Homo sapiens: one gene and its partners. The protein of the gene in region 1 purifies or fractionates together with the protein of each later gene. This does not show direct contact. Each region holds a gene or a part of one and is shown in the gene's direction. Other genes may lie near its edges. The genes, in order: SYF2, CCDC12 and CDC40.

What was found.
Region 2: the proteins of SYF2 (region 1) and CCDC12 purify together in Homo sapiens (co-immunoprecipitation; 3 studies listed by BioGRID and IntAct, with this or other methods). This does not show direct contact.
Region 3: the proteins of SYF2 (region 1) and CDC40 purify together in Homo sapiens (affinity purification with mass spectrometry; 2 studies listed by BioGRID and IntAct, with this or other methods). This does not show direct contact.

What each region holds. Positions count from the first base shown.
Region 1 is NC_000001.11:25,225,966-25,229,618, reverse strand, and holds part of SYF2 (pre-mRNA-splicing factor SYF2), read left to right. Parts: intron 1-495; coding exon 496-621; intron 622-1,383; coding exon 1,384-1,501; intron 1,502-2,086; coding exon 2,087-2,177; intron 2,178-3,653. UniProt on the Homo sapiens protein: Involved in pre-mRNA splicing as component of the spliceosome.
Region 2 is NC_000003.12:46,942,216-46,945,868, reverse strand, and holds part of CCDC12 (coiled-coil domain-containing protein 12), read left to right. Parts: intron 1-3,653.
Region 3 is NC_000006.12:110,225,289-110,228,941, forward strand, and holds part of CDC40 (pre-mRNA-processing factor 17), read left to right. Parts: intron 1-878; coding exon 879-955; intron 956-3,543; coding exon 3,544-3,653. UniProt on the Homo sapiens protein: Required for pre-mRNA splicing as component of the activated spliceosome. Plays an important role in embryonic brain development; this function does not require proline isomerization.

The sequences.
Region 1 (3,653 bases):
ATTTTTAGTAGAGACGGGGTTTCACCATGTTGGCCAGCCTGGTCTTGAACTTCTGACCTCAGGTGATCCACCTGCCTCAGCCTCCCAAAGTGCTAGGATTACAAGCGTGATCCACTGCACCTGGCCAATTTAATAGTAATGCCAAATAAAGTCTACTTAAGTGCCACTATAGTATGGTCTCCAATACTGCAAAACCTTGTTCTGATCCAATAAAAAGGGACCACACAACTCAATAGAGGCAAAGCTGATTTTAACCTCCAGGGCTCTGGAACAGCAAACCAGTGCAACTCAACACATTTTTCTTGACTGCATAAAAACGTAGACCCTATTAGGCTATTCCCTGGCTTAAAATCCTGTGATGGCTCTCTATTGCTTTTAGGATAAAATGGGGTCAGCTTATTAATATGTCCTGCCTGACCCTCCTCAAAGAAGGCAAGGTGTATCTGGATTTATTTTCATGTTTTAGCTGACAGACTTCTTGTGTTACGGTTTTAGAATGAAGCTCGTAAATTAAATCACCAGGAAGTTGTGGAAGAAGATAAAAGACTAAAATTACCTGCAAATTGGGAAGCCAAAAAAGCTCGTTTGGAGTGGGAACTAAAGGAAGAGGAAAAGAAAAAGGTTAGGAACTATTCTATCTTCATAAGTGATTTAGTCAATCATTCTGTTGTATCAAGACACTACAACATGGTGGTTGTATACACTGGCTCTTAGGCCAAGCTGCCAGAATTGAAATTCTGGCTCTGCTCAGTACCAACTGCAACACGTTGGGTGAGTTTATTTAACTTCTCTGTACCTCTGTTTTCTCATCAATAAAACAGGGACTGTAACAATAATTATTTGAGTTCATTATGAATTAAGTGAGTTAATGCATGTAAAACATTTAAAACAAGGTCTGACACCTGATAAACACTCAATAAGTATCATGTGCTCACTTATATACCATAGTATATTCCCAAATTTCCTTTAAATGCTATTAAAGTGGCCGGGTGCAGTGGCTCATGCCTGTAATCCCAGCACTTTTGGGAGGCCGAGGCTGGCAGATCATTTGAGGTCAGGAATTTGAGACCAGCATGGCCAACATGGTGAAACCCCATCTCTACTAAAAATACAAAAATTAGCCGGGCATGGTGGCATGTGCCTGTAGTCCCAGCTACTTGGGAGGCTAAGAGATGAGAATCCCTTGAACCTGGGAGGTGGAGGTTGCAGTGAGCTGAGATCGCGCCACTGCACTCCAGCCTGCGTGACAGAGTGAGTGAAACTCCAACTAAAAAAATACTATTAAAGTATTGGTTGATATTTATTGGATCTTTCTTGATGTAAAGTAGATCAAATTATTGCATGTATCATAATTGTAGGTGTCAGCTTTTTTCTTCTTTTTAGGAATGTGCGGCAAGAGGAGAAGACTATGAGAAAGTGAAGTTGCTGGAGATCAGTGCAGAAGATGCAGAAAGATGGGAGAGGAAAAAGAAGAGGAAAAACCCTGATCTGGGATTTTCAGGTCAGATTGACCTTTATTGAACCTTATTGACTGGGCTGTTAGTCATTTCCTTCATTGTTTCTGGTTTCAAGAAAGGATGTGCCTCTTGTGCTTCGTGGGATATTCTTGATGAGGCTTAAGACCAAGAAAAGTACAAATATGTCTCTTAGGAGAGAAGTTAAAAAAAAAGGCTGTACTTCAGTTAGCCAGGTTTTTAAATACTTGATGATAAAATTTATCAAAGTCTGTTTGTCAGCATCTTCAGGATAGAAGCTATGCTTAGAATAGTGTTATGGGCATATATTACTTCACACAGATTGAGTATCCCTAGTATGAAAATCTGAAATCCCAAATGTTGCAAAATCCAAAACTGTTTGAATGCCAACATGGTGCTATGATGCTCAAAGGAAATGCTGATTGGAGCATTTCAGATTTTGAATTTAAGTATAATAAAGATATTCCAAAATCTGAAAAAAATCAGAAACACTTCCGATTCCAAGCGTTTTGGATAAAAGATACTCACCTGTGATAATTTAGATTTTTCTCTCAATAGGAAGGTCCAAACAAGGAAATATATTATCGCTGATTCTCATTTTATATTTTTAGATTATGCTGCTGCCCAGTTACGCCAGTATCATCGGTTGACCAAGCAGATCAAACCTGACATGGAAACATATGAGAGACTGAGAGAAAAACAGTAAGTCCTTTTTCAACCTGAGGTGATGTGGATGTATTTGTGTGTGTGTGTGTGTATACATGTACATAAATAGAAACATGCTTTAATGCTAAGGTATGGGTTATTAATAGTTGTCTAAGGATGGTCTCTGTTTTTTCTGGATATTTTTTTCCTTTGAGATGGAGTCTTGCTTTCTCACCCAGGCTGGAGTGCAGTGAATGGTGCGGTCTCAGCTCACTGCAACCTCCGCCACCTGGGTTCAAGCAATTCTTCTGCCTCAGCCTCCTGAGTAGCTGGGATTACAGGCGCCCGCCACCACGCCCAACTAATTTTTGTAGTTTTAGCTGAGATGGGGTTTCACCACGTTGGCCAGGCTGGTCTTGAACTCCTGACCTCAAGTGATCCGTCCACCTCAGCCTCCCAAAGTGCTGGGATTACAGGCGTGAGCTACTGCGCCCGGCCCTTCCTTTTTTTTTTTTTAAGAGACGGTGTCTCGCTCTGTTGCTTAAGCTGGAGTGCATTGACACTGTCATAACTCACTGTAACCTCAAACTTGTGGCCTCAAGGGATCCTCCCACATCAGCCTCCCCAGTAGCTAGGATTACAGACATGTGCCACGATTCCTGGCTAATTAATTTTTTTGTGGAGACGGGGTCTCACTGTGTTGCTCAGGCTGTCTCAAACTCCTGGCCTCAAGTGATCCTCCATCCTTGGCCTCCCACATGGTTGAGATTACAGGTGTGAGCCACTGTGCCAGGCCTAGTCTCTGTTTTGACAGCACTGTTTATTGCTTACTTCACAGCTATTAAATTAATCACATGTTTTTTGTTTTGTTCTTAACTGGGCATTCTAAGACTGGTTGTTGATTGGTTAACACCCTGATTGTCGTAGTTACTTAGATATTATTTTAGGAGGCAGAATGCTTTAGTGCTGGGGTTGGTGAACTTTTTCTGTGAAGGACCAGATAGTAAATATTTTAGCTTTGTGGGCCATATAGTCTCTGTCACAGCTATTCAGCTGTGCTGCTGCAGTGCAAAAGCAGCTGCAGAGAATTCATAAATGAAGCCTCTTTTCATAAACAGGTGGTGGGCTGCTGTAGTTTGGCAGCTTGTTTTAGTGGAAAAGGAAATAACCTCAGGATGGAGCTCTAATCCCAGCTCTGTTCCTAGCACTTTGTGACCTCTGATAAGTCCTGGAGCCTCTCTGCCTGTTGGCTCTTTGATCTGTACAGTGAAGGTGTTGGCGTAGATGATGTCTTAGGTTCCTTTCAATTCTGTAATTTTTTATTTTTTATTTTTATTTTTATTTTTTTTTTGAGATAGAATCTCGCTCTGTCGCCCAGGCTGGAGTGCAGTGGTGCAATCTTGACTCACTGCAGCCTCCGCCTCCTGGGTTCAAGTGATTCTTCTGCCAAGTAGCTGGGACTACAGGTGCCCGCCACCACGCCTGGCTAATTTTTTTGTATTTTTAGTAGAGATGGGGTTTCACCATGTTGGC
Region 2 (3,653 bases), on another chromosome or scaffold:
ATGACACAAATTATCAATATCAGTGAACATCACTACAGATCTTACAGACATTAGGCTATTAAGAGAACAATATAAGTCACTTTGTGCCAGTAAATTCAATAACTTAGGTGAAACAGACATCTTGAAAGACATAAATTAATAACACTGGCTGGAGAAGAAATAGAAAATCTATACAGTCCTATAACAAATATTTTCCCAAATAAAACTTCAGGCCAAGATTGCTTCACTGAAGTCTTGTTGAACATTTAAGGAAGAAACAATACCAACTTTGCACAGCTCTAATTTTATTTGTAACAGTTTTGTCCCTGATAAAAAGGATTTCAAACATTAGGAAACAGGTCAGTCAGACTCTGTCCTGAGCAGGGCTGTATTTGAGACCCCCTGAAATCCTGCCTCAAAGGCTTCTTCCTGCTGAAGGCTCTGGGAGGAGGTGAGGGCAGGGGTGCAAGGTCTAGGTGTGGAGATGTGGGCAGGGGTGAGAAATGGGGGAGTACCTCCATTAATAGGCAGATAGGCTATGGGGAGGGCCCCAGCCCAGACCATGACTCTCCTGCCCTCCAGCCATCAGCGTTCCTGAGGTTTACTCTTCTGGAGTTGGTGGAGAGGGTAGCAGTTAAATTGGTAGCATTTCTGAAGGTTGTCTAGCCCAGGCTCTGGGCTAGGCCTTGAGGTGCTCTAGGAGATGCCCCGTGCTGAGAGGTTCTTGAAGGGAAGGGGTAGTAAAGCCTACATGTGAATAGGAATGGCCACAGGCCTGTGCCCTGGGCCTACGGTCAGACCCTGATATGCACTGGGTAGGCCCAGAGGATTCTTTTGCCTGGGAATCTTAGAAGGCTGCTTTGAGGAGGTGGCCTTTGGCCTGGCCTTTAGGACTGGCCAGATGGTGTGTTTTCTTGGGGGTTATCAGAGTAGATATTTCAGGATTTGAGACAAAATGTGGGGTGTAAGAGTGTTCTGGACAGAGCAGATGTGAGGTCGAGATGAATGGCTGTTGTCCTGGGGGTGTGGAGACCCAGTGAGAGCTTTGAGCGGAGGTGCAGTGTGGTCTGACCAGTATCTTTGAAGAGGAGGCCAGGAATGTGGATTGATAAGTTGAAGAGAGACTTAGGGGAGACAGGTTGGAGAAAGAGAGGGAAAAATGCAGGAGGCAGCTGTATTCTCCAGAGTAGAGGGGAAGGCTGGCTGGCAGGCAGGGGTGGAGGGGAATGGCTGGGGGCTTGGTTGTGGTGGGGAGCTAAGGAGGTGGTAGACGAGACTAGGGATTGGGAAGGAGGGAGAAGATGGCAAGATTTGGGAAGGGTATTGAGTGGGGAGTGGGGGTGGTGAGGCATTGAGTCTGATTTAAAGGTCTCAGGGTGAGCGAAGTGTCTCTAAATTCCTGGGGAGGCTGTGCACCTAGGGCCTTGCCTGCTTTCCTACTGAGTGTCCAGCAGGGCCTAGGCTTGGACTTGGGCTGGCTGTGGCCGCATCTGAGCACATGGGACCAGGTCTGAACTGTGTGGGGAGCGCAGGAGAGGCGGGTAGAATCAGAGCTCTTTAGAAACTCAGCGCCACTCTTCCACTCTTGATAGCCTCTCTCTCGTCTCCTTGGCAAGACTGAGGGCCAGGCATCAGGACGACCTGGATCCAGACTTGCAGCTACCGCTGATGGGTTCTGTGACTTTGGACAAATCTTTTCCTTTTCCCTGACTGCCATTTCCCAGGTTTTCCCATGGCTTAAACTGAGGACCTAGAATGGGTGATCCTGCGAGCCCTCCAGGTCTGAGGCTCTTTGAGTCTCTCAGGTAGGGGTGAGCTTCAAGTGGTCTGCGCTTCCCTCCACTATCCCGGGCAGCAAAGGGCCTTATCTTGTGATTCAGGCCAGTGTCACCAAAAGCGATTTTCCTTCCCGTGAATGCCCATTGTCCTATTTATGAATCACTCTTTGTCAGGAAGGCTGAGGTACACCTTATCTCCCCCACTTGTGTGGCCTGTTCATTTGTTCACCTGCTCCTGCCACAGATGTGGATCTTTATCTTTTTTGAGCCCCTGCTCTTTGCACAGCATCCCAGGCTGGGGTCATTTTTAACCTCATGCTGTCTGCAGAGCTAGTGCTGCCCCCCACCCACCAGATTGCTGGGCATTTTTAAAAGTCATTTAGATAGTTGGGTGTTTTCTCATTTATTAATGAATAACTTGGCCTTTGCTGAGGCACTTGAATGTCTCTGGGGCTCCAGGAGGGTGGTGACAGCTGTTTGACCTTGCTTGAGAGCCGAGAAAGGGCATGGTATTTGCAAAGCACTCCTCCCAAAGGCTGGACACTTTCCCGTAGTCCCCACCTACTTCTGCCAGGTGGTTCGGGTTAACAGAACCCCTGTGGAAAGGAGTCGTCTTTGTGGCTGGGGGTCTTGCCCCACTAGCCCAGTGTGGGGAAAGAAGAGCCCTTTCTGCTTTTCCTTCTCTGCCCTTACCCAGGGCAGGTGTCTGCCGCTCCTTCCCCTGAGGTAGGCACTGCAGGGAGTAGCCTTCAGGGTGTCCGCTGGTTGGGAGTTGGGAAGGAATTTTTTGCTAGAATTTGCAGGCTCTGGCTTGCTTCATCGGCTAGTCTTTAGTCAGGGAGGGCTGCATGTGTCAGCAGGGCCCTTGTGGAAGCCCCGTCCAGGTCCCAGCAGCCCTGGGAGCCATTTGGAGAATCCTGACTTGTTTCTCAGTGAAGCATTTATACTCTGTTCTCCCTTCCCTCTTTGGCCATCACCAAGCATCTGCCTGTCCACCCCAGGGCCTGCCTTCCCCAGCAGAGGTCAGTGAACTCTCTCCAGTCTCTCCTCGGTTTCTCCATTGCTTAAGAACACCGGCCAGAGCCCTCTGTGTTCGGCCATTGCCTGCCTTGACTGTCTTACCTGGCAATCATTGTCACCCCCTCCCCCAACCCCAGTCACCTGCATGCTCTTCAGACCACACCCTGCCTTTGTTCAAGCTCTGCTTCCCACCGGGAATGCCCTTCCCACTTCTCTCCCCCTATGCTGTATCACCCAATTCTGCCCAGCCCATCTCTCAGTAGGAAACCTCTCACCCATCGCCCAAGAACCACGTTCCATGTTGACCTCTCTCGTGTAGCTGCTGTCACTTGGTCAGTTATTTTGTTCTCGCTGCCTCGTTGCCATGAGATGAGCTGCCCTGAGTTGGGGTGGGGGGCATGTTGATCTGTTCTCATGACAGAAGCCTTTCTCTGGGCCAGGCCTCCGACCTGGTTTTGGTAGTCTGCTCCCCGGAGGTTGTGTGGCCAAGGAATGGCAGGGTCTGGTTGATGCCTGCAGTCTCCACATAAAGCAGATACCATTCTTAGGAAGGCAGTTGTCAATGGCATAAATAAATGTCTAGGAAAGGTAGTTCAAGTAGCTGTTTTACTTATAATTTATATGCAGGCTCCAGCGCATTCTGTGTCCACCAGAGCAGGCTCCCAATGGAAGGAGCTCACAGATCTCTCTTAGAACACTGCTCTGCGAGAGTCAAAGGCAGGACGCTGCCATAGTGAAGTGAGCATTGTCACCTTCTGGAGTGCCAACCCTGGCATGCAGGGAGACCCACGACAGCTCTGTCTTGGGGCCTCTCAGTCCATGCCCTGGGCCCCAGGTGTGGTCACACGAATTTGTGCATGTGCACACACGCCCTGC
Region 3 (3,653 bases), on another chromosome or scaffold:
TTTCTGGTCTCATGAAAAGCAACAAGACGAAAACTCCTTTCAGAAAAGAATTTTTAGCATGGAGAATATTAAAAATGAAAAGGCACTTAGAACTTTTGATGGTTCTAAATTTAGGTGGCTACTTTTTAATTTTTTTTTCATTCTTTCATCACTCACATGAGGTTTTTTTTTTTTTTTTATGTTTTTTCTCCTTCACCAAACACATTTGAAATGCTTTACATGTAAACTGAAGATAGTCCAGGTACCAAGCATTTATTTATCATCATTTATCATCATTTCTGGATGGGCTAGATCAGCTCACAGATCCCTACAGCTTTGCCTGCCATCCACCTGCATTGCTGCAGGCTGTTTAACACTCTCACCTCCTCAAGTTAAGGTAGGCTAGCCAGTAAATAACACTTCCCCATAGGCTTACCTCAGACATCTTGCTTCACCCTACCATGGTACATTTTTAATTTAATTTTTGGTTTTATTTCAACAGCTTTTGGAGTAAAAGTGGGTTTTGGTTACATGGATGAATTATATAGTGGTGAATTCTGAGATTTTAGTGTATCCATCACCATGGTACATTATTAAAGAACTTTCTTTCAGTAACAGATTTTTTAACATAAAGGCCAAAGTTTAAATGAAATAGAAAACAAAATCACCACCACTGTTATAATGATCATGGAAAGTGATTTATGAAGTACAGGATTTACCATAAGCAGTACAGTGTCATCTTGTGATTTTTCTTCTTCCAGAAAGTTTCATGAAAGATTTATTAAATATATAATATCAAGAGTTTGCTTTTATTTGCATATTATTCCTTTGTTCCAGAGATAATTCTGAAGGTACTTTTTAAAAGTTGCTTATTCTGATATGCTATTTAAAATTTTTAGGGATATCCCTGTGGATTTCAAGTACATAGCAGAACCCAGTATGCACTCAATGCCTGCAGTGACTTTGTCTCCAAATGGTGAGTTAGTATGTAGATTGTATTTTTAAATGAGCTTCTAAGATACAGTGTGATTTCTTTATTCAAAAGAACTTTGGCCCCTTCCTTCTTGGGGAAGTTTGTCACTGTGCCATTATTTGTATAAGGTAATCTTTACAATATTAGAAAGAATTACTGGTTTTCATATGCAAGTCACCTCACCTACTTTTCTGTGTCTCTTTTTAAATAAAAATAAAAGAAACAATGATTTACAGCTAACATTGATTGAACATCAGATTTTTATTTAACAATCAGTTTTCTTTTCTTTTTTCTTTTCCCCTCCTCTCCCCTCCTCTCCTCTCCCCTCCCCTCTTTTCTTTTCTTTTCTTCTTTTCGAGACAGGGTCTCCCTTTGTTGCCCAGGCTAGTCTCAAACTCCTGGGCTCAAGTGATCTTCCCTCCTCAGCCTCCCAAGGTGCTGGGATTACAGGCCTAAGCCACTATGCCCGGCCAGAGTTTTCTTTTCTAATTCTCCTTCCAAACAGAATCACGTTCAGTAAATCATTTAATAATGATTTGGCCAAGGCAGAAGAATCACTTGAACCCAAGAGTTTGAGACTAGCCTGGGCAACATAGAGAGACCTCATCTCTACAAAATAAAATTTTAAAAATCAGCTGGCATGGTGGTGCACATTTGTAGCCCTAGCTACTTGGTCAGGCTGAGATGGGCAGTTTGGTTGAGCCAGGAGATTGACTATGATCATGTGACTGTACTCCAGCCTGGGCAACAGAGCAAGACCCTTCTCTCTAAAAAAAAAAATAGTAATAGTGATTTACTGTAAACTCTTTCAGGGGATAGGAAGTTTTGGTCTGATTCTCCATAATGAGAGAACACTTTAGCAATTCACTATAAAAGATTTTCTCAGGCAAAAATTAAGAAGATAAATCTATTTAATATTGTTTAATCCATTGTCTTTTACGTACAAGATAATTTGTGCTACAGATATACTGACAATATACTGATGTAATTATAGCTTTACATGAGAGTCTTAAAGTGGGAGTTCTGATGTTTGGGGGACCTTGTCATTGAAACCACTGTCAATTCACATAATTAACTCCAAGTGTAGGGCAAGGAAGAATTTGCTGTTCCATCAGGGCCTCTGACACAAGCAAATGGTAATAGTTGTCAAATGCTCTATCATTTTTATGAGAAGAGAAACCTAACTGAACCTTTTTTTGATCATTGCTAGATTATATACTTCGTCACTGTGCATCTATATTTCATGTAGCGTATTTTTAAACCACCTATTACAGATTTTGTGCCCATCTTGAACAAGGCCATTTACCCACTCAGGCATTATTTAAGTCTGTTTCCTTAGTAAGTAATGTTTACATGTACAGTTGGCCCTTTGTATCCATGAGCACCATATCCTGGGATTCAACCAGCACGAATCCAGAATATTCAACAAAATAAACAATAAAAAATAACAATACAACAATTAAAAACAACACAGCATAACAACTAGGTACAAAGCATTTACGTTGCATTAGGCATTATAAGTAATCGAGAGGTGATTTAATGTATACAGGAGATATGTAGGTTATATGCAAATACTATGCCATTTTATATAAGGGACTTGAGCATCTGTGAATTTTGGTATTGGGTAGGGGTGCAGATCCTGGAACCAATTCCCAACAGATACCAAGGGATGACTATATATAGGATGCAAGTATAGTCATGCATTCCTAACAACAAGGGTACTTCTGAGAAATGCAGTGTTAGGTGATTTTGTCATTTTGTGAACATCACACAGAGTACTTACACAAACCTAGATGGTATAGTCTACTTACCCTAGGCTGTATGGTATAGCCTGTTGCTCCTAGGCTTTACCCCTGTATGGCATGTTGCTGTTCTGAATAATGTAGTCAGTGGTAAGCATTTGTGTATCTAAACATAGAAAAGGTACAGTAAAATCTCAGCATAGAAAAGGTACAGTTAAAATTTAGCACTATAATCTTATGGGACCACTGTCATACGTGCGGTCCATCATTGACCAAAACATTGTTAAGTGGTGCATGACTATAGACGCTGCAGTTTAGGCTCTAGGGGCTTTGATGAATCCTAAGTAGAGAAAAGCATTGTAGCCTTTTAAAAAGTTACTATAATTTTTAATATATCTTTTTTTGTATAGTTTTATTTAATAACCCTAGGCTTTCTCACCCCTTAATCTTTCTTTATTCTGTAATTACCACAGATAAGTCTCTTTCTCCTATTTCCCATAGTTCTGTTGTCTATACTTACTATAAATTAATTTCATTTCACAACTTTTAGCTTATTTCTTTAACATTAAGCTTGGAATTTCTATATTTCCTTATTTTTTTAAAAACTTTTATATGAGAGTGCTCAATGATATAGGATCGTATATGCAAAAGCCATTAGTTTATATATTAATACCTCTTGCCAGTGACATATTTATAACATTTTACAGGTGGTATAGTAAATTTATTTTTTAGTATTATAAAGTATTTGGGAGCAAAACTTATATTAATCACAGTGAACATATTTAAAATAAAAAGTTTTAAAAATTGTTTTAGTCTTCCTCTAAAATACCTCATTTATTGAATTTACAGGAAAATGGCTAGCATGCCAATCAATGGACAACCAAATCTTAATTTTTGGAGCACAGAACAGATTTAGATTAAATAAGAAAAAAATTTTTAAGGGCCATATGGTAGCAGGC